2 separate regions of the Homo sapiens genome follow, and region 1 is linked to region 2. The links come from fine-mapping of genetic effects on gene expression. A gene starts in region 2. The other region holds a variant in brackets. All regions are shown on one strand. Distances are from middle to middle. Region 1 overlaps CYSTM1 (cysteine rich transmembrane module containing 1). Region 2 holds the start of PFDN1 (prefoldin subunit 1).

Region 1 (11,248 bases), 73 kb after region 2:
GTGAGCCAAGATCGCACCACTGCACTCCAGCCTGGGCGACAGAGCGAGACTCCATCTCAAAAAAAAAAAAAAAGGAAAGTTTTTCTGGTGCTGAAGACCCAATGTCATGGGTGACATTACTACAGTAGGAGGAGGAAGCAGTTCATTATATCATGACATATATCATGAACATATCCCTAATGCAGCTTTTGGAGGAATAATTATGAATGAGGCTGGCTGGGCTTGGTGGCTCAAACCTGTAATCCCAGCACTTTGGGAGGCTGAGGCAGACAGATAACCTGAGGTCAGGAGTTCAAGACCAGCCTGGCCAACATGGCGAAACCCCATCTCTACTAAAAAGTATAAAAATTAGCCAGGCGTGGTGGCGGGCGCCTGTAATCCCAGCTACTTAGGAGGCTGAGGCAGGAGAATCGCTTGAACCCTGGAGGTGGAGGTTGCAGTAAGCCGAGATCGCGCCACTGAACTCCTGCCTGGGCAAGGGTGAGACTCCATCTCAAAAAAAAAAAAAAAAATTATGAATGAGGCTGATATACCAGGCAGAAGAAATTAAGGAAAATCTAGAGAAAAAACCTAATCATGCCTAGTACATGACAGTTCTATGACCCTGTGATGACGGTGTAAAGACCTCGAGGGAGGGAGGATTTTCCAATGGCAGCAAACAGTGTATGATCTTGCTCATGACCTGCTCAGAAGTGAGGCACAGGAAGACCACGGTTGTGAATGATGGTGGCTGACCTGACTCAGAGCATAACCCGGCCCACAAGTCCCTCAACATACTGGCCATCTTGTAATGGCTGTTCCTACCCAATTTAATGAATAGTATACCTCATTTACTGCCAACTTCCAAAGACACCAATGTAATCATACACTAGGGGCTTTAACTGTGGAATAATTACAACCCAGCAAATGAATGGGCAGGCTGCCTGCCATCATTAAAGGTTATGGCATGTAAGGGTGAGCAACCAATCCCACTTAAATACCCATTAGGCCCCATGATGATCTATAGATTTAATGCAATTTCAATAAAAATCCCAACAGGAGTTTTTAATAGATAAAGATAAACAAATTCTAAAATTTATGGAAAGGAAAGAGAACTAAAATGACTAAAATGAAGATTTAACATAAAGCTACAGTAGTCAAGATAACCGGTTAATGGTATTGGCAAACAGACACATAGATCAAAGGAATGGAATGAAGAAGACAATAATAGACCCACATGAACATGGCTAACTGGTTTGACACATAAGCAAAGGCAATTCATTGGAGAAAGCATTTTGAAAAATATTGGTATGGCATGCAGAACACCTCACAAAACCCCTCAGCTATTTTAAACCTCACATTTTATACAAAAACTAACCCCAAGTGGATTATAGATCTCAATGAAAAACATAAAACTGTAAAATATTTTAAAGAAAACATGGAAAAGCATCTTCATGACCTGGGGTTAGACAAAGAGTCCTTAGACTGACACCAAAAACGTGATAAAATAAAAAATTGATAAACTGGACTTAATCACAATGAAAACTTTTGCTCCATGGAAGACACGGTTAAGGGGATGAAAAGATAGGCTACAGACGCAGAGAAAATATGTGCAAATCACAGCCAACAGAGGACTTGTATCTAAAATATATAACAACTCTCAAAAGTCCACAGTAAGAAAACAACCCAATTTGAAAGTGGATAAAAGACTTGAAAAAACACTTCACCAAAGAGGATATACGGAGAGCAAATATGCACATGACTTCATCACTAACTATTAGGAAAACACAAATTAAAACCACAATGAGATGCCACTACATACAATCAGAATGGCTAAAATAAAAATTGCTGACAATATCAAGTACTGGCAAAGATGCAGAGCCACCGGAACTCTCATTCATTACTGATAGGAACGCACGATGCCAAAGCCACTTTGGAAAAGAGTAGCAGTTTCTTAAGCCTACCATATGATCCAGAAATTCCACTCCTGGGTATTCAGCTTAGAGAAATGAAAACTTAGGTTCACACAAAAACCTGAACGTCAATGTTTATAGCAGATGGATTCATAATCACTCAGAGGTAGAAACAACCCAAATGGTCCTTCAACAGGTGAATGAATAACTGGGGTACCTCTAATACAATGGAATACTTCTCAGCAATAAAGTATCCACAGATCCTCATAGAATACACCAGCAGTTAACACACTGATGATTGTGCTCGCAAGGCAGTATCCTGGAATGACATTCCAGGGCAAAACCTACCATCCCAAATCTCCTGTGGCCAAATGCACTGCAAAATCCCAAAGACCAGGGGCTTTCAAATGTATTCCTCAGGCCCCTAAGCTTTCATAAAAAGTAGGGGGTGGTTCCTCTTTGCCTCAACCACAGCAATTCTATAGTATCTATTTTCCAGACTGGAGTTGCATGTAGAGTTTCCTTTCAAAAGATGTATATTAGCAAAATCTGTAATGGTGGTCATGAAAGATCTAGACTGTTGCTACTGTTCAGAAGGACCTCCCCAGGGCATGGATGGTCATCTGTTTGGTTATCTATGTGCTGGACCCTCCAGCAGCTACCGCAGAGGACATAGTCTTCTTGAGGAACAATGTCTCCTCTGTTCAGGCTCAAAGCTGAGTGACATTAGCCTGACTCCCTTACTTGATGTCTAACCTTTTTGGAACTCAATGTTTTGTTAGCATGCTTCTGTCCAGTTTAGTGGAGGTTCCTAGCCTTCCTGCCTCAGCTAGTTCTTTGCACCTGTGAGCTTGCCTGTTCCATGCTTACACACATGTCTGCCTTTCTCCAGGCCTGAGGAGCCCTGTCTTCTAGTTCCAAGCAGTCTTGTCTTTCCTTCTGTTGATTTCCTTCACAGAACAAGAACTGGAGAAAAGTCCACCTCCTCAGTGAAAACAGTGTAGACACTTTTGCGTTCTCACTTTACCTAATCTCTCAGCAACATTTGATGTTACTAATCAATCCTCTCTTCCCAATACATCTTCACTCAGCTCTCAGGACATCCCATTCTCCTAGCTTTCTCTCTCTGACTCCTTTGCAGATCCATCCAGAATTCCTTAAAGCTCAGCCCTACACTGCCATCTTTCCTTTTCCCTCCATATTTCCATCCAAGTTGATCTTACTCACGGCCACAGTTTCAATGATCATCAACATGCCAAGGCTCTCCACATTGACATCTCTAGCCCAACCTCTCCTCCAAGCTTCAGGTTTATATACAATTGCTTACCTGACAGCTCCACTTGAATGTCTCATAGATACTTTGAAACCTCAAACTAACTCAGTTTGTTCTCTCTCTCAACCAATCATGATTCCTTTCTCTTGTTCCCAACCTCTGTAAACACCACCACCAGGCACCCAGTTCCAGTCAGAAACCCAGAAGTCATCCCTGACTCTTACCTTCTTCCTCAATGTCCATATCCAATCCATCACCAAGTCTGGTTGATTTTACTTCCCAATATCTCAAATGCATTCATTTCTCTCCATAATCACCATGTGTACCTGTGCCCCCTTCCAAACCACTCTCCACACAGAAGCCAAAGGGATTTCTTAAAAATGCAAATGTGATATCATCCCTTTGCTTAATATCCTTCAACAGCTTCCCATTACTCACAAGACAAATACCAAAATCCTTAACTTGGGCTATGAGCCTCCATCTTGTTCCTGCCTGTTTCTCAACTGCTCCTAATGTCCCCTTGCGGCCTATGACACCAATTTCCTTTTCCACTTTATCAAATGAGCCACCATCTTTCCTGCCATTGGGCCTTGGCACCTGCTGTTCCTACACTTTTGCCTACTGACATCTATACATCTTTCAGATCTTAGCTCACTTCACTGCCTTGGGGAAGCCTTCTTGGACTGTGCCAGATTGTTCCCCTTTTGTAGGTTTTCATGGCATTATGTCTCTTCTCTTCACAGGGAAGTATGATGTCAATTATTACCTGTGGGTTTATTTAATGTCTGGTTCCCTCCCTAGAGTATAAGCCCTGCAAAAGCAGGGATTGGGGGTTTGTTCTGTGTGGTCTGTCACCTGACACTCTGGAGCTACGTTTACGGAATCCATGATTGTCTCTGTAGAACCCTGGTGGTTTCCCTGGAGCATGCATAGGACAGACTGAAGAACTGCTCCCCTCACAGCTGAACTGCCCCCAAGGGAATGGTGTGACAAAGATGGGCTAAAATTTTCTAATGTGTGATCCCAATGGAATGAATAAATTATTTCCACCAAGTAATAAATGTAACATTTTAAAAAAGTAATCTATTCACAGTAACATTAAAATTATACCTGGAGAAAAATCTAATTTTAAAAACCAATAAAAATATGTGAGAACTATGTGAAGAAAATTTTAAGACTTAAAGGACATAAAAAGAAGACAAAAATAAATTGAGAGATTACTTGTTCATGGTGGGAAGACAATATTGTAAATATGTCAACTCTTTCACCAATTACTTGATAAATTACATGCTGTTCCAATCAAAGCCAAACATGGTTTTCTGTAGAAACTAACACACATTCTAAAATGTAGATGAAACAGTAAAAGGCCGAGAAAGCCAAGAAAATTACGAAAAAGAATAAGAGGTATGTGTTTATGCACGTGCTGGTGGAAGGAGGGTACACATCACACCAGATTCCTGATTCTAGCTCATATTCTAATTCGTATATGGGAACGTGGTATATGACAAATCTCATCTCAGATTAATAGGGAAAGGACTGAAACTGTGCCCCAAAGATTAAAGACACCAATCCCTAACAGAGTTTACAAGATGGCAGTCAAGAAACAACTTGCTGAAACACTGAAACGCCTCTGCTTATGAGGCAAAAGAACTGAGTGAAATCTGTTAGAACCAATATGGCCAGCTGGAGTTTGGACAGAATGAGCCTGCTGATGATGTCACAGCCTGAATTTTCACTGCATGTTTCATGCTAACCCCTCCCCTGAATTTGCACATGGGATCCAAGAGGTAGCATGAAGAGATTATTGTACATGCCCCAGGACTTTCCAAACCTCTTCTTTCCTTCCATCAACCATCTCTCATCCTGGAATCCACCCCTCTAACCTTTTCTAATAAAATTACTGCCTTAAAGCCAGGACAGGGAGACAGATTTGAGCTGGAATCCTGTCTAATTGTTAACTTATAATAAAAGCATTTCTTTTCTCAAAAACCCAGTGTCATGGAATTGGCTTCTAGCACATCAGGCAGTGAGCCCCTTTTGCTTGGTAACAGGATGATCTAATTAATACATGCAGCTGGAACTACCAAGATG[G/A]AAAAAGAAAACTAGAATCTTATCCTACACCCATGATAAAAAATAAATTCAGGGCCAGGTGCGCGGTGGCTTACGCCTGTAATCCCAGCACTTTGGGAGGCTGAGATGGATGGATCACCTGAGGTCAGGAGTTCGAGACCATACTGACCAACATGGTGAAACCCCTGTCTCTACTAAAAATACAAAAATTAGCTGGGCATGGTGGTGCATGCCTGTAGTTCCAGCTACTTGGGAGGCTGAGGCAAGAGAATCCCTTGAACCCAGGAGGCAGAGGCTGCAGTGAGCCGAGATCGTGACACTGCACTCCAGCTTGGGTGACAGAGCAATACCTCATTTCAAAAAATAAAATAAAAATGCAAAATTAGCTGGGTGTGGTGGCACATGCCTGTAATCCCAGCTACTTGGGAGGCTGAGGCAGGAGAATCGCTTGAACCAGGGAGGCGGAGGTTGCAGTGAGCCAAGATCATGCCATTGCACTCCAGCCTGGGCAACAAGAGCAAAACTAGGTCTCAAAAAAATAAATAAATACATAAATAAATAGATAAATAAATAAATCAGGTGGACTAACGACTATATCTTAAACATTTTTAAAAGAAAATATAGACTTATTTTTATGAGCTTGGAATAGAAAATGAGTTTTCAAAGACTAAACCATACAAAGCACGAGGGAAAGATGATAAACATGACTTCTAAAATTTCTCATACTAGAAAATACACCATAAAAAGATTAAGAGAGGCCAAGTATGGTGGCTCACACCTGCAATCCCAGCACTTTGGATCTCAGGTGGATCGCTTAAATTCAGGAGTTCAAGACCAGCCTGGAAAACATGGCAAAACCCTGTCTCTATTAAAAAGATACAAAAATTAGCAGGGTATGGTGGCGCGTGCCTGTAATCCCAGCTACTTGGGAGGCTGAGGCACAAGAATTGCTTGAACCCAGGAGGTAAAGGTTGCAGTGAGATGAGATCACGCCACTGCACTCCAGCCTGGGTAACAGAGCAAGACTCCATTCCAAAAAAAAAGAGAGTCAGATAGGAAGAAGATATTTGCACACCTATAAAACAGACAAATATTAGTGGATAGAATATATAGAAATTCTCTACAAATCAGTAAGACAAACCAACAGAAAAGACAGGCTAAGAATATGTATAATCAATTCACAAGATATGTACAAACTGCCCAAAACTTATATGTTTATGTTCAAGGTCACTAGTAATCAGGGAAAGCAAATTAGTGAGATACCATTTCACACCTATGAAAGGTGCTAAAATTTAAAAATCTGTGAGTTATTGTCAAAGAAAGAAGAAAATGGAAATTGTGCAACAGTAGTTGTTTATTCCTGTAACAGGAGGTAGCAGGGCTGTAGGGAAATACTCGGATCTTAGCTGCTCAGTTCAAGTTGTCCAGGAGGCAGCAGCAGCAGAGAGCAGCCCAGCAAGCAGCCAGGACTGCCTGACACCCGCTGTCCATCTTCCTTTCCCGTTCTATCACGTACACTGTTGAAGGGGGTGCAGGGCGGGCAGAGGAGAGAGAGACCCAGTCAGAGGGGACTTGGAGTGGCAGCATGCTGGTAGAACTTACCACACTCTGCAGACTGGTTCTGTCTAGATTGTTAGCTCCACAAGGGCAGGGCAGGGGCCAAGCTGATCTGGTTCACTGCGCTTTCCCTGTTTCAGTGTCTGGCACACATCAGGTACTCAGCAGCTATCAGACCACTGTTCCTGCCACCTCTCCTCCAAGCTGACCAGGAAACCCAACCCAGTACTTTATTTGTTGCTTGTCCAAAGTGATCCAATTCTCAATGCAACCCTTGCCCTGAGCCCCACCCCTGAAGCCTGCCCTGATATGGCAGGCACCGGCGGAAATCTTTACATATGATTTCATTTAATCCTCCCAACAGCTCTGTATTATTATCATCATTTTATAACTCTCATACACTGTTAGCAGGAGTGGGAATGGACAGAATCTCTTTGAAGGAGAATTTAGGGAGAAGGGGAGAGACAACAACTGCAACCCAGAAAATTTGTATCTGGAATTTATCCTGCAGAAATAATTGTCCCAGCGTTCAGGGATCTATGTAAAGTATGGTTGTTGCTGCATCAAAATAACCCCAAACTAGCCTTAATGTCTATCAGGTGAGTCCAGTTGGGTAAATTAAAGCACACCACATAATAGACTACTACTAAAAGAACCAGGTGGTTCTTCCACGTGACCAATAATTTAAGGGATGAAAGCAAGGTCTGGAGCAGTGCATCTATTTTATTTGTACAATAAGAAGGATATACACACAAATACACACACACACATTTCTGAAATATACAAGAACTTAAAGGTCAGGGTGTGGAGAGAGGTGGAGGTTTTCACTTTGCTTTTACATTTTTCTCAAATCCAGGCTCGTCTGATTCCAATGCCACACTCAAAGCTGCTCCTGGGGGTCCTCATGGCAGAAGGGTGGGGCCTAGCTAGTTTTAGAATGCCTTGGATCTCTTCAAGCGTCTATTTCAACTGCTCTAAGATAGTTCCGGGGGCTTTAGGGGCAGTGGGCACTGACCAATCTGGGCTCCTAGCCCCAGTGGCCCCATCCTCAGTCCTGGGCTGCCTCCCTAAGTCACTGTTACCTAGACACCTCACATGGTCCAACTCCCCACAACCATGCTCCTCTTATAGCCTGACCTGGCACCTCCTAACCCATAGTTCCACCTATCAAATATGCCTTAAATCCAATTCTGTCTCCTCTCAGGCCCTGCAGCCTCTGAGTTCTAGGCTAGCACCAGGACTTCTGCTGGGCAAACCTGGCAAGTAGGGGATGCTATCAAATCACAACTCTCCCTCCAAGGAGCTCAAACCAGAGAGGACCCCTATACTGCTGCAATTCCTAGGGCTGAGCCCCTATTAACCCTCTCCCCCCTGCCCATGCAAGATCCCAAACAGCTCATTAAGGCTTCTTTTGCAACCCCTGGCCCTTCACACCAGGTGGCAGTACTTCAGAATTTACCAAATCAACCCCAGCCTCTTCTCTTGGGGTTTGGGAAGGTACTCAGGAGCCCACCTGAGCCAGGTTCTGGGGAAGACGGCATCAAGGGAGCAGGCGCCATTGGTCTCTGCCTATGCACAGCCTTGAGGATTCCATGATGCTCCAGGGGCCACCTCCAGGTCCCTAACCAGCCCTCTGGCTCCCCTCACCCCAGTGAGTGTGAACATCCATCATACTCCGCTTTCTCCTCTCACTTCCTCAGCAGAGCCCCTCCATTCTTGACTCCCACACTGCTGCTCTCCACCTCTGCCAGTCAGCGACCTCAGCAGCACCAGGACCCTTGTCAGGAACTTCAGCGTCTACTCAGCTGACCCTTGGTAGTGCCCACCCCACCCCTTGGCCTTCTCTCAGCATCAGCAGTACTGTCACTGGGCTCATCCTTTCCTGTGTCCTGGAAATATCCCCTCCACATTTTTTTTTTTTTTGAGACAGAGTATCACTCTTGTTGCCCAGGCTGGAGTACAAGGGTGCGATCTCGGCTCACTGCAACCTCTGCCTCCCAGGTTCAAGTGATTATCCTGCCTCAGCCTCCCAAGTAGCTGGGATTACAGGCATGCGCCATCACATCTGGCTAATTTTTATATATATATATATATATATATATAATATTTAGTATATAATATATATTTATATTATATATTATATTATTAATATATATAAATATATTATATATTATTAATATATATTTATATATATTATATATATATAAATATATATATATTTTTTATAGAGACGGGTTTTCACCATGTTTGCCAGGCTGGTCTCGAACTCCTGACCTCAAGTGATCCGCCTACCTTGGCCTCCCAAAGTGCTGGGATTATAGATGTGAGCCACCGCGCCCAGCCCAGAATAGGAATTTTAATAAAATATCAAGCTGAATTTAAATATAGGGTCATCTACTCACTGGCCATGTAACCTTGGACAGGTAATAACCTCTCCAACCCTCAGTTTCTTCTGCTATAAAACAGGAATAATATTAGTAATCTATACCCCATCATAGGGTTGCTGGGAAAATGAAGAGATTATGCATGTAAAATGCTGGGCACAGTGCTTCGCACATTGGAAAGCATTCAGTAAATGCTCACTGATGTTATTACTATTATTCAAATGCCTATGACCTTTCAGGCAGACCCCTCCCCTGACCAAAAGCAGGCCTCTTGTAGACAGGGAGAAAGAAGAGGAGGTGTTTACCCACTCTGGGAAGAAGCCTCAGAAATAAACAGGAGGCTGGGAGTCAGAGTCACAGGCTATTCTAGGAGCAAGGGGCCTGCAAGATCAGTTAGCCCCTCGCTGTAGAGAGGAGGTAACGGAGTTCCAGTGCAAGGGATGGATATGCCCAAAGCCACTCAGAGAGAAGAGGAAGAGCAGAACAGAGCCAGATCTCTATCTCCAGTAGATTCACGGCAGGAAAATACAAGAATGCTGGGGAGGGGACTGCCAGGAACCGAAGGCCCTGCCTAGGCACACCTTCCTTCACTCCAGCTCACACACAGACATGAACAGTCCCCATCAGTTTTCCTTTGGCCTCAACTAACTACATGACATCAGAGCCAAGGTTCAAAGTCAGGGAAACCGGTCACATCTTTGGGAAGTATGACTAGGAAGCCCAGGCAGAGCTCAGGGCTGGGCAGCTTCCAAGTCAGAGGATGTGGAGTTTGTATACTGAGCCTGGGACAGAAGAGAAACATATGGGACATGGGAACAATCAGGATGGCAGCCAGAGGCTGGAGTCCAGGGGCCACAGACACCTCCTGTATCCTGACTGCCAGGCCCAGGCCCATGCCTGGTAACAACCCCTTCCCCAACTCCCTCCCACTGATTGAAGGCCTAAACAACCCAGGTACTGTGGTCACCCCAGCAGGAATCCCCACAGTGGGATTCACCTGTATCTGCCTACACCACCTGCCAGTCCTAGCGTTCCACTGATCCTGAATGGGCAGTGACACCTATGTAGGAAAACAGTTTGTTGCATGGCAAGAATGACACCATCTTTTTTATTTTTATTTTTTAGAGAGAGGGTCTTGCTCTATTACCCAGGCTGAAGTGCAGTGGCATGATCATAACTCACCTCAGCGTCAAACTTCTGGGCTCAAGCAATCCTTTAACCTCTGCTTCCCAAGTAGCTAGGACAACAGGTGCATGTCACCACACCTGGCTAATTTTTAAAATTTTTTGTAGAGACAGGGTCTTGCTATGTTGTCCATGCTGGTCTTCAACTCCTGGCCTCAAGCCATCCTCCTGCTTGGTTTCCCAAAGTACTGGGATTACAGGCATGAGCCACTGTGCCTGGTATGACACCATCTTGAAGTGAAACCACGATGACTGATGTATTCCCATAGCATAGACAACTCCTTATAAAAACACAATGCCAGGCTGGGCATGATGGCTCACACCTGTAATCCCAGTGCTTTGGGAGGCTGAGGCGGGAGGATCCCTTGAATTAACGAGTTCAAGACTGGCCTGGGCAATAAAGTGAGACTCCATCTCTACAAAAAAATTTTTAAGTAGCTGAGTGTGGTGGCTCATGCCTGTAGTCCCAGCTATTCAGGAGGCTGAAGCAGGAGGATTGCTTGAGCCCAGGAGTTTGAGGCTGCAGTGAGTCATGATCACACCACCACATTCCAGCCCAAGTGACAGAGAAAGACCCTGTCTCCAAAAATAAAAGAAAAAAAGAAACAATGCCTATTGCATAAATAACCTCTAGTGAAGATATTTGTCTAATCTTCCTAGAGTTTTGTAAGAAAGTCTGCGGCAGCTGGGCATGGTGGCTCACGTATGTAATCCCAGCACTTTGGGAGGCCGAGGCGGGCGGATCACCTGAGGTCAGGAGTTCGAGACCAGCCTGACCAACATGGAGAAACCCCATCTCTACTAAAAATACAAAATTAGCTGGGTGTGGTGGCGCATGCCTGTAATCCCAGCTACTCGAGAGGCTGAGGCAGGAGAATCGCTTGAACC
Region 2 (11,248 bases):
GGCCAATTTTCTATTTTTATTTCTGTAGAGATGTGTTCTCACTATGTAGTGAGCTATGATTGATCACAACACTGCACTCCAAGCTGGACAACAGAGCAACACCCCGTGTCTTTAAAAATAGGATTATGGTTACTGAAATAAAATACTAATGGATGCTTTAAATGGTAAACGAGACATAGTTGAAAAGAAAATTAGTAAGTTGGTGGAGAGTGTTGTAGAAACCTAAGGTTTAGCACAGGGAAATAGTAAGTGTAAAATAGAGGTTGAGAGATGTGGATACTTCCACATACTTCTAATGAGAGTTCTACAAGGAGAAATGAGAGCCAATGTTGCATGAGATACTGGTTGAACATTTTCTAGAACTGACATAAATCCTTAGATTAAAGAAGCATACTATGGTCCAGGCATGGTGGCTAATGCCTATAATCCCAGCACTTTGGGAAGATGAGGCAGGTGGATTGCTTGAAGCCAGGAGTTCGAGACCAGCTGGGCAACAGAGTGAGACACCCCCCTCCATCTCTATTATAAAAATTAAAAAGAAAAAAAGAAAAAAGAAGAAGCATACTATGTACCAAGTAAGAAAGATTTTTAGAATATACATTTTAAGATAAAGGTTTAGGTGAATTTTTAGGTATATATTTTTAATCTACAAACACACACACAAACACAAACACACACATCAAAGTAGAAGGGCAAAACCCAAAGACAAAGTGAATCTTAAAATATACCAGAGAAAAGACAGATTTCTAACAAAGAAATGAAAAGCAGCCTGACAGAGGACTTTTTATCAGTATATAAAATCAGAAAACTATGGAAAAATGCCTTCAATAATAATTGTCAACCTATAGTTCTATATATAGCTAAGCTGTCATTCAAAAATAAGGGTGAACCTTTTAGATATGCATTTATTTATTTAAAAAAATATACATATTTTTTGGCCAGGCGTGGTGGCTCACGCCTGTAATCCCAGCACTTTGGGAGGCCGAGGCAGGCGGATCACGAGGTCAGGAGATTGAGACCATCTTGGCTAACACGGTGAAACCCCGTCTCTACTAAAAATACAAAAAATTAGCTGGGCACGGTGGCGGGCGCCTGTAGTCCCAGCTACTTGGGAGGCTGAGGCAGGAGAATGGCATGAACCCGGGAGGTGGAGCTTGCAGTGAGCCGAGATAGCACCACTGCAGTCCAGCCTGGGTGAAAGAGTGAGACTCCGTCTCAAAAAAAAAAAAAACAAAAAACATTTTTTTTGAGACAGGGTGTTGCTCTGTCACCCTGGCTAGAGTGCAGTGGCAGATCATAGCTCACTGCAACCTTGAACTCCTGGGCTCAAGCTATTCTCTGCCTCAGCCTCTCAAGTAGCTGGGACTACAGAGGTGTGCCACACCTGGATAATTTTTAAAAATTTTTGTAGCAATGGGGTCTTACTATGTTGTCCAGGCTGGTCTTGTTCAACTCCTGGCCTCAAGCAATGCTTCTGCCTTGGCCTCCTAAAGTGCTGGGATTCCAGGCATGAGCCACCACACCTGGCCTGATGTACATTTTTAGATATACACAGAGCATTTTCTAGGGCTGCCACAACAAAGTACCACAAACTGGGTGGCTTAAAACAACACAAATTTATTGTCTCAGTTCTGGGGGCTAGAAGTCCAAAATCAAGGTGTTGGCAAAGCCATGTTTTATCTGAAACCCGAAAGAGAAGAATCCTTCTTGCCTTTTCCAGTTTCTGATAGCCCCAGATGGTTTTTTTGAGACAGAGTTTTGCTCTTGTTGCCCAGGCTGGAGTGCAATGGCACAATCTCGGCTCACTGCAACCTCCACCGCCCAGGTTCAAGCAATTCTCCTGCCTCAGCCTCCTGGGTAGCTGGGATTACAGGCATGCACCACTACGCCCCGCTAATTTTGTATTTTTGGTAGAGACGGGGCTTCTCCATGTTGGTCAGGCTGGTCTTGAACTCCCGACCTCAGGTGATCTGCCTGCCTTGGCCTCCCAAAGTGCTGGGATTACAGGCGTGAGCCACCACGCCTGGCCTGATAGCCCCAGGTTTGATGTGGCTTTCTCCTTATGTCTGTTCACATAGTCCTCCTTGTGTGTGTGTCTGTATGTGTCCAAAGTTCCCCTTTTTATAAAGACATCAGTCATATTGCATTAGGGCCCACTCTAATAACCTCATTTAACTTGATTACCTCTGTAAAAACTCCATTTCCTTCCTTCCTTCCTTCCTTCCTTTCTCCCTTTCTTTTTATTTTTTGAGACATGGCTTTGCTCTGTCACCCAGGTGGGAGTGCAGTGGTAGATCATAGCTTACTGGAGCCTCAATTTCCTGGGCTCAAGCAATGCACCTATTGCAGCCTCCCAAGTAACTGGGAATATAGATAACTGCCACCACACTCGGTTAATTTTTTTTATTTTTTGTAGAGATGAGGTCTCGCCCTATTGTCCAGGCTGGTCTCAAACTCATGGGCTCAAAGAATCCTCCCGCCTCAGTCTCCCAAACTGCTAGGATTATAGGTATGAGCCACCACGCCTGTCCCAAAACCCTACTTTCAAATAGGGTCACATTCTGAGGTACTGGGAGTTAGGACTTCAACATATCTTTTGTGGGGGGCACAATTCAACCTGTAAAACAAAGATGAAGAGAATTTACTTATCAGACATTCTTACTAAAAGAACCTACTGAAGGATTTCCTTTATCATGAAGGAAATTAGGCTGGGTGCAGTGGCTCATGCCTGTAATCCCAGCACTTTGAGAGGCTGAGGCAGGTGGATCACCTGGGGTCAGGAGTTCAAGACCAGCCTGGCCAACATGGTGAAACCCCATCTTTACAAGAAATACGAAAAGTAGCCAGGTGGTGACATGCACCTGTAATCCAAGCTACTAGGGAGGCTGAGGCAGGAGAATTGCTGGAACCCGGGAGGTGGAGGCTGAAGTGAGCTGAGATTGAACCACTGCACTCTAGCCTGGGTGACAGAATGAGACCATGTCTCAAAAAAGAAAAAAAAAAAAAAAGGAAATTAAACTCATGAGGAAGAAGTAGTATACAAATACACAAAGAGAAACAATGACCAAACAAACAATGCAGAGAAGACTCTTGCCTAAGATCATATTACCCTTAAGTAGTATAATCAGTATTTGTACCCAGGTTGTCTGACAGCTTAGCCCAGGCTCTTAACTTTTACAGTCCATACATCTCTATGAGGACTCTTTCAAAAGTCTCATGAGGTAATGTACAGGACAGTATTTCAGACTTTTTTTGAATTTCAATATTCAATCACTATTTTATTTTATTTTATTTTATTTTATTTTTTGAGACAAGGTCTCACTCTGTCTTTCAGGCTGGAGTGCAATGACACAATTGATCCCCACTCACTGCAGCCTTGGCCTCCAGGCCTCACACAATTCTCCTGCCTCAGCCTCCTGAGTAGCTGGGACTACAGGGGCATGCCACCATGCCTGGCTAATCAGTCAGTATTTATTGATCATCTGTAATGAGAATCTAAGAAGGTCCCAGAGAATCAAAATATCAGATCCTTTTTACTCTTTCTCAAATTGGGGAGGAATGAGTCTTCTTTTTTTTTTCCAGAATAATTTATTCACATCCAGTATCCATTTTGTATTTTTTTCCCGTGATGCACTGTGACAGGTGTTCTAGGTACAAGAGGTGGAAGAACCATTATTCCATAGTTCTTGATTTCAAGGAGCTTACAGTCTAAGAAAAATGTTTTCTAAAAAAAGGTAGACAGTGTTATATGCCTTGAGAGAGAAATAGATGTTGTGAGGGGAGTTCAGAGGAGAGATTATCTTTGCTCTGTGTGATGGGGGATGTAGTGCCCATTTGCTGGACTTTGAAAGACAAACAGGACGGCGATTAACACCAGTGATTTATTGAGTATCTACTTGTGTGCATGGAGCTATGTTTGGAGCTTTTTATCCTGATCTCATTTATTTCTCACAATAACCCTGTTAGGTCAATATGGTCACTCTCAAACATGAGAAGACTGAAGCTCATTAAAAATAGGTGGCAGATGCTGGACGTGGTGGCTTGCCTGTAATCCCAGCCCTTTGGGAGGCCGAGGCAGGCGGATCACTTGAGGCTGGGAGTTGGAGACCAGCCTGGGCAACACGGTGAAACCCGTCTCTACCAAAACTACAAAAATTAGCCGGGCGTGGTGGCAGGCGCCTGTAATCCCAGCTACTCGGGAGGCTGAGGCAGGAGAATCACTTGATCCTGGGAGGCAGAGGTTGCAGTGAGCCGAGATCGTGCCACTGCATTCCAGCCTGGGTGACAGAGCGAGACCCTGGCTCAAAAAAAAAAAAAAAAAAAAAATGTGGCCGGGTGCGGTGGCTCAAGCCTTTAATATCAAAGCACTACAGCACTTTGGGCGACCAAGGCGAGCGGATTGTTTGAGCTCAGGAGTTTGAGACCAGCTTGGGCAACAAGGTGAAAACCCGTCTGTACAAAAATATAAAAATTAGCTGAGTGTGGGTGGCGCGCGCCTGTAGTCCCAGCGCTACTCACGAGGCTGAGGTGGGAGGATCGCTTGAGCGCGGGAGGTAGAGGCTGGAGTGAGTCGTGATTGCACCATTGCACTCGAGCCTGGGTGACAGAGCAAGATCCTGTCTCAAGAAACAAACAAACGTACAAAAAAAAAAAAAAACCCCACAAAATATCCAAGTGACTTGCTTAAAGTCACACAATTAGTAAATGGAACCAGACATAGGCTAAAGGCAGACCAAGCCTTGAATCTAGATTAGGCTGGTTCCAAATTCCCTGCCCTTTCATCTCCCTAACAGTTTGTTTTCTTTCTCTCTTTCTTTCTTTTTTTAAAAAATAAAATAAATTTCCTAATTATTTATGTAGCACTTTCTCTTAGCATAACAGTTTTTAGAGTAGGTTAACTTTTTTTTCCATTTCCAAAAGTCAATTATTATCTATTCTGGTTCAAATGCCAGGTCCTTTTATGGCAGAGATTCTCAAAAAAGTGATCCGCGGAGGAGTTGCACCATTAGGTCACTGGGGTAGTCTGCAAAAGTGCAAATTTCCAGACCCCATTCTCAAAGATTCTGAGTACGTTTGAGATGAGACCCAGAGAACCTGCATTTTTTTGTTTTTAAACAAACGTATTCAGCCTCTCTTGAGAACCACTGTGCCTAGAATGTCTTTGGGAAGCTTTTGGAAGTAATAAGTTCGTTTTGGAAAGAACACTCCAGACAAGCTTTCCAATAGTCTTTCCCAAACTGTCATGCCTGAGGTTCTGGACTTACTCTTACTCATTCCTGAGAGCACAGCGACTAGCTGAAGGACTGATCGACTGATGAGGGTTTGACCTCATCTACATACATCTCAATTTAGCAGCACATATTAAGCTAGCTGGCAAACTGCTTAAAGCCACATGGGAAATCTGCGCGTTGGGCTATGTCTGGAAGATACGGAGGAGCAAGCCAGACCTGACCGGTCAGGTAGTGAAGACACGGAATCCGAAACCCAAATATTTCAGGAGTCAATTCTCAGAGAAAGATAAGAAGCCCGGTTAGTCCAACTCATGCGCAGGCGCAGAAGAAAGACCGGCGCACAAAGTAAGACGCGCCCTTCCCCACCCTATTTCAGTCCAACTCCCACTGCGCAGGCGCTTACAGTGCACCAAGATGGCCGCCCCCGTGGATCTAGAGCTGAAGAAGGTAAAAGAGGGTCTTTGGCAGGCGGAGGTCTTCTTTTTGGAGGCTGAGGGGACTATAGACAAGAATATCAAGTGAGGCACGAGCCTTGCAGAAGGAAGGAGGGTCCAGTGGACTAGGGAATGGTTTCCCAGAGTCCTAAGGCCTCACTGGGTCTCCATAAACGGGGTGGGGGGCGAGCGGCTCTTGCTGGGTAGGAGCCGGTTGGTCTGGGTCGGGTAAGTCTGCGGGCCTGTCTCGGGCTTGTCCAGTCTTTCTGAGCTCCAGAGACATTTCGTTGCGTTTGGAGGCTTCAGGGACTCACTTTCATAGTAAGAACTAAAGAGAGCATTTCAAATGGGGGTCCCTTCGGACCCCTTGCCTGAGCTGTGGCATCCGTAATTCTGCCTCATTTGCTTTGAAAAACTCCAAGTCCAACCTTTGTTTTTAGGCCATTTATTCGGTTCTGTACCTTGAAAGTTGCAATATCTACAGTTCGGAAAACCAAGCATTGTAGCAGCAATGTTCATTTCAGGATTTTGCCCCCCCTCCACTTCTTTTGAAGGACTCGTCAAACAAAACAAAACAAAACCTCCTTCTTTTGAAGGAATTGTCAAAAACAAAACAAAACCAGTAAAGTTTTCCAAATAAAACCGGTATCGGAAGGAATTGGGTTTCCTGTTTTCCTCAGTTGCTTATAAATGTGTTGTTATTCAGATTTTTGCTATCTAAGAATGATCAGCATTCTAACACCACTAATGACCCCAAACCAGTATGCTTTGTGCGGTGGGGTGGATTGGAAAGGACCCTAGAATTTATCTATTTTAAATCTACTTTTCTGGAAAAGGAACCAGTGCCAGAAAAGTCTGTCAGAAGTTGGGACTAGAATCCAGTATTCTCTGCCTTATCTCACACTTTTTTGACCACTATTTTGAGTTCTTCAGATGAGCAACATCTTAGTTAAGACTGCCTGTGGTCAACTTGTGTAAAAGAAATAGGACAGCCGAAATAGCTGTTGCTTCTAACAAATGAAGCTTTTGTTAGTGTTGTGAGGATATTATGTGTTTGTGTCTTGCTTTTGTTCTTCTTGTCTTGAATCTTGTAAATTTAGCTCTTAGGTGGAGTCTCTAATCTTTAACAGTATACTAGCTCATCTTTAATGGTATACTAGCTTCCTTAGCAAGCTGTATAGAGCAGTCAGATGATACCTGGAATTTTACATTTCAAAACAAAATTGTGCATTCTAAAAATTTACCTTTTCTTCTGTTAAAAGTACCGATTTAAATCAGGGTTTAGTGAATGGATTTGCCTCCCGGTACTTTTGAATTTATTGCTACATTTGAAACTTGCGGGCGGTGAATGCAAACTAAGAAAATGATTACAAACTTAAAATGAATAATTTTGATAACCAATTAATTAAAAAACTTGTTTAAAGGTTTTATCTTCTAATGTTTTTACAGGGTCCTTTTTTTGGGTGGAGACAAATAGGAAATTTCAGGCCCCTCCCCTTCCCCAAAGTAAATCTTTCAAAACCTTACTAGTAGGTGAAAACAAGGTCACAATAAAAATTATGTAGTAGCCTTTGCTGTGCATTGCAGTCACAGATGTTATTAAGGCACAAATTTAACAGCATGTGAAAGTCATTCCAGGCACTTCAACAAAAGTATCCAAGAACTGTTTATCTTCCAGTTAAGTAAGTGTACGCAAGGGTCAAATTTGGCCTGGTATCTGTGGATGAAGATCATGATGCAATTCTTTTGCCAGTGCTTTGCATTTTTTCTCACTCTCTTTCTTGGTCTTCCTCTTAAAAATGTTCATATTATGAATATTACTATAGACAGTGGAATGGAAAGATTGCTGAACTAAGGGGTTAGAAGAAATGGATTTAAATAACACCTGCCTTCCCCCCAGTAGTTGTTCAACCTTGTGCAAGCCACTTTTATCTCTTAACTCATTTGGTTACTTAATTTGTAAATTGTGGATGATGAGACTGCCAATGCTAACTCATGGAATTACTGAGAGGCATAAATGAGATATTTATTATATTTCCTCATTAATATTCTTATATTAATATTCCCATGTTAATATTTCAAACTAATGTGAGAAAGTGCTTTGAAACCTAATTGTGCAATACAAATGTAGTGAGTTATTACTTTTATGGTTCTTGTTTTGAATCTCTGGATTTCATCCTTGACTATTGCATTTATTTCTTTTACTACTCCTTGAGTACTTGCTACTTAATATGGTTATTACTTAATATGCATTTGATTTGCTTCACACTGATTGTATCTTCTGATGATTGTAAATTCAGTATTTAGTATGGTGACTTGATTGTTTACAGTTATGTTGACTTTTATTGATGTTTGGTAAATTTCACAGCTTTGTCTCTGGCTAGCATATTTTGTTTTAATATATTTGGATTTGAGGTAAATGTTTCCTGTAAAATGTTTTACCTACTAAATCATGGACTTGTTTTTATTAGGCCTTCACAGAGCTTCAAGCCAAAGTTATTGACACTCAACAGAAGGTGAAGCTCGCAGACATACAGATTGAACAGCTAAACAGAACGAAAAAGCATGCACATCTTACAGATACAGAGATCATGACTTTGGTAGATGAGACTAACATGTATGAAGGTGTAGGAAGAATGTAAGTAAAATGTGTCCTTAATGGAGTTATTTTGGGAGTGCTTTTGTCCGAGTTAAATAGAATTTGTTCATCTTAAAACTTGGGTTAGGCCAGGAGTGGTGGCTCATGCCTGTAATCCTGGCACTTTGGGAGGTCGAGGCGAGTGGATCACTTGAGGGCAGCCTGTTGGCCAGTATGGTGGAACCCTGTATCTACCACAAATACAAAGATTAGCTGAGCATGGTGGCACTTGCCTGTAGTCTTGGCTACTTGGGAGGCTGAGGCAGGAGAGTCGCTTGAACCCCGGAGGTGGAGGTTGCAGTGAGCCGAAATCATGCCACTGCACTCCAGCCTGGGCAGCAGAGCTAGACTCTGTCTCAAAACAAAAGAAACTTTGGTTTAAAGTAAGTATCTTTTTCTTTTTGAGACGGAGTTTTCGCTATATCGCCCAGGCTGGAGTGCAATGGCCCGATCTTGGCTCACTGCAATCTCCGTCTCCTGGGTTCAAGCGATTCCCCTGCTTCAGCCTCCTGAGTGACTGGGATTACGGGCGCTTGCCACCACGCCCTGCTAATTTTTGTGTTTTTAGTAGAGACGGGGTTTTACCATATTTGCCAGGATGGTCTGGAACTCCTGACCTCCTGATCCGCCCACCTCAGCCTCCCAAAGTGCTGGATTACAGATATGAGTCACCACACCCGGCAGGTTAAAGTATCTTAGAAATAACTTTAAAGATTATCTAATTAAATGCTTTCTTTTTTTAAAATGAGGAGCTGAACTTCAGGTAGATTAATTAAAGTGTTTAAGTTTAGACTTTAAAGTACATTTTTTTTTTTTTTTTGAGACAGAGTCTCGCTCTGTTGCCAGGCTAGAGTGCAGTGGTGTGATTCTGGCTCACTGCAACCTCCGCCTCTTGGGTTCAAACAATTCTGCCTCAGCCTCCTGAGTAGCTGGGACTACAGGCGCATGCTACCATGCCCGGCTAATTTTTGTATTTTTAGTAGAAATGGGGTTTTACCGTGTTGGCCAGGATGGTCTCAATCTCTCCTCTTGATCCGCCCGCCTTGGCCTCCCACAGTGCTGGGATTACAGGCGTGAGCCACCGCCCCTGGCCTCAAAGTACATTTCTTAAGTGCTTACTTTCCTGTTCTGTCTATGATTAGGTACTTAAGTGTAAGTTCAGTAATAAAAATGATTTGTCATGGAAAATGTTTATAGCAATATTATATTGTATGTGAAGAAGATTTATTTAAGTAGGTGCAGTTTTAACCTCCTCTTCCCTGCTTAATTTATTAGGAGTGATACAAATCATAAATCTTTCAGATGTCTGATCAGTGTTGTAAAATAAAAATAAAAATTCAATTGTCATTTAAATACACTCATTCTGGCCAGGCATAGTGGCTCATGCCTGTAATCTCAGCACTGCAGGAGGCCAAGGTGGGTGGATCCCCTGAGGTTAGGGGTTTGAGACCAGCCTGGCCAACATGGTGAAACCCCATCTCTACTAAAAATACAAAAATTAGCGAGGCATGGTGGCGCACACCTGTAATCCCAGTTACGAGACTGAGGCAGGAGAACTGCTCGAACCCAGGAGGTGGAGGTTGCAGTGAGCCGAGATTGCGCCATTACACTCCAGCCTGGGCAACAAGAGTGAAACTCTGCCTCAAAAAAAAAAAAAGTAAAAAATACACTCATTCTAAGTGTCATGCATTGTTCTAATAGGAGGACAACTCACATGTGAGAAATCTAGTAAATTATTTTACTTTTGTTTGTTCTAATTAATACATTATTAACTTCGTACATTTCACTTTTTTTTCTTTTAAAAGCATATTGCCCTTGTGAGAGAGAATAGGTCTGCTTCATATTCTGTAAGCAGAAAAAAAGGAATGGAAAAGCCCTTAAGTACAGGTCACATTCCATTACAGTGAGCTAAAAGGAGAAGACTGATTTTTTTTTTTTTTAAGTTGGGGGGAGGTACAGGAGGAGGGTTTTTCTGGAATTTGGTCTTTGAGTATTACTTAGTAAGTAGACCATTACTTCAGATTTGGAGATCTTTTAGTTAGAATGGAATTTGACCTCAGTCTCGGGATGACTTGTTTTGTGATTGATTTGAAGAAAGAATAACATGTGTAAAATTTAATAATGACTTTGGAATGACATCATGAGAAGTAGACCTGCTCATCACTGACTAATCCATATCTTTATGGTTCAGAATTAGATTATGTTAAATTGTTCATCTGATTTGCTTTCTCAGAATGAATAATGTAGCACAAGTAAATTTTATGTCCAAGCTCATATATTTCATTTTAGTTTAAGAGGATAAGGATCCCAATTTGAGAGTTTGTTACTGGGACACAAAAGAATTGGAACAAAGTAGAACCCTTGAATATGTGTCTGTGTAGTATGAAATGCATTGTTGGCATTCACTACAGGATAATTTTATCCTTAATGTGAATATCCTTAGGTCTTAAAACAGTAATGCCAGCTTTATTAACATGTTGTACTTGGATTTCACATCACTGCGCTAGCCTTTGTTTGCAATAGCTAAAGAATTCCTTTTTCAAAATAGAAAAAACGTTTTACTCCCTTTGGGCTTTTGAGCTACAGTGAAGTTTTAATTTTTAATTAGAATAGTTTCATTTATTAAACGTTCTGCAGAAGTGTTAGGAGAGTTGTTTTTTGTACATATTTTCCAAAGTGCTACAGATAAGTTGTTTTCCATACCAAGAATTTTGGAGTTTAAAGGCTAGGATATGAATTAATAAATAGTAGAATGGTATTATTTCCAGAAGGTTTATTTCATATAAATTACGTTTCTTAAAAGAAGTGTGGAGTTTTAAATGTTTGGATAAAGTTGAGCTTCTACATGATTTCAGACTTCTGTTTTAAATTTGACTTTAGTGCTGTCTGCATCTCACCGGGAGTATGAGTTTGACCCTGTATTGTAGGGGCATGTAAGGTGAATA

The links.
Region 1: its variant is fine-mapped to the expression of PFDN1 in whole blood (TOPMed, PIP above 0.99).

Annotation. Positions count from the first base shown.
Region 1 is chr5:140,224,234-140,235,481 of GRCh38, reverse strand. All of the region lies in intron 2 of CYSTM1 (cysteine rich transmembrane module containing 1), which reads right to left. Among named protein-coding and RNA genes, the nearest start is that of CYSTM1, 55 kb to the right of the region's middle. The variant G/A (reference allele first, on the strand shown) is at 5,257.
Region 2 is chr5:140,297,471-140,308,718 of GRCh38, reverse strand. It overlaps PFDN1 (prefoldin subunit 1), which reads left to right and starts at 5,618. Exons shown (of 4, transcript NM_002622.5): 1 at 5,618-5,678; 2 at 8,137-8,303. The coding sequence starts at 5,646. RefSeq lists a silencer at 5,509-5,713 and enhancers at 5,602-5,881, 9,273-9,789.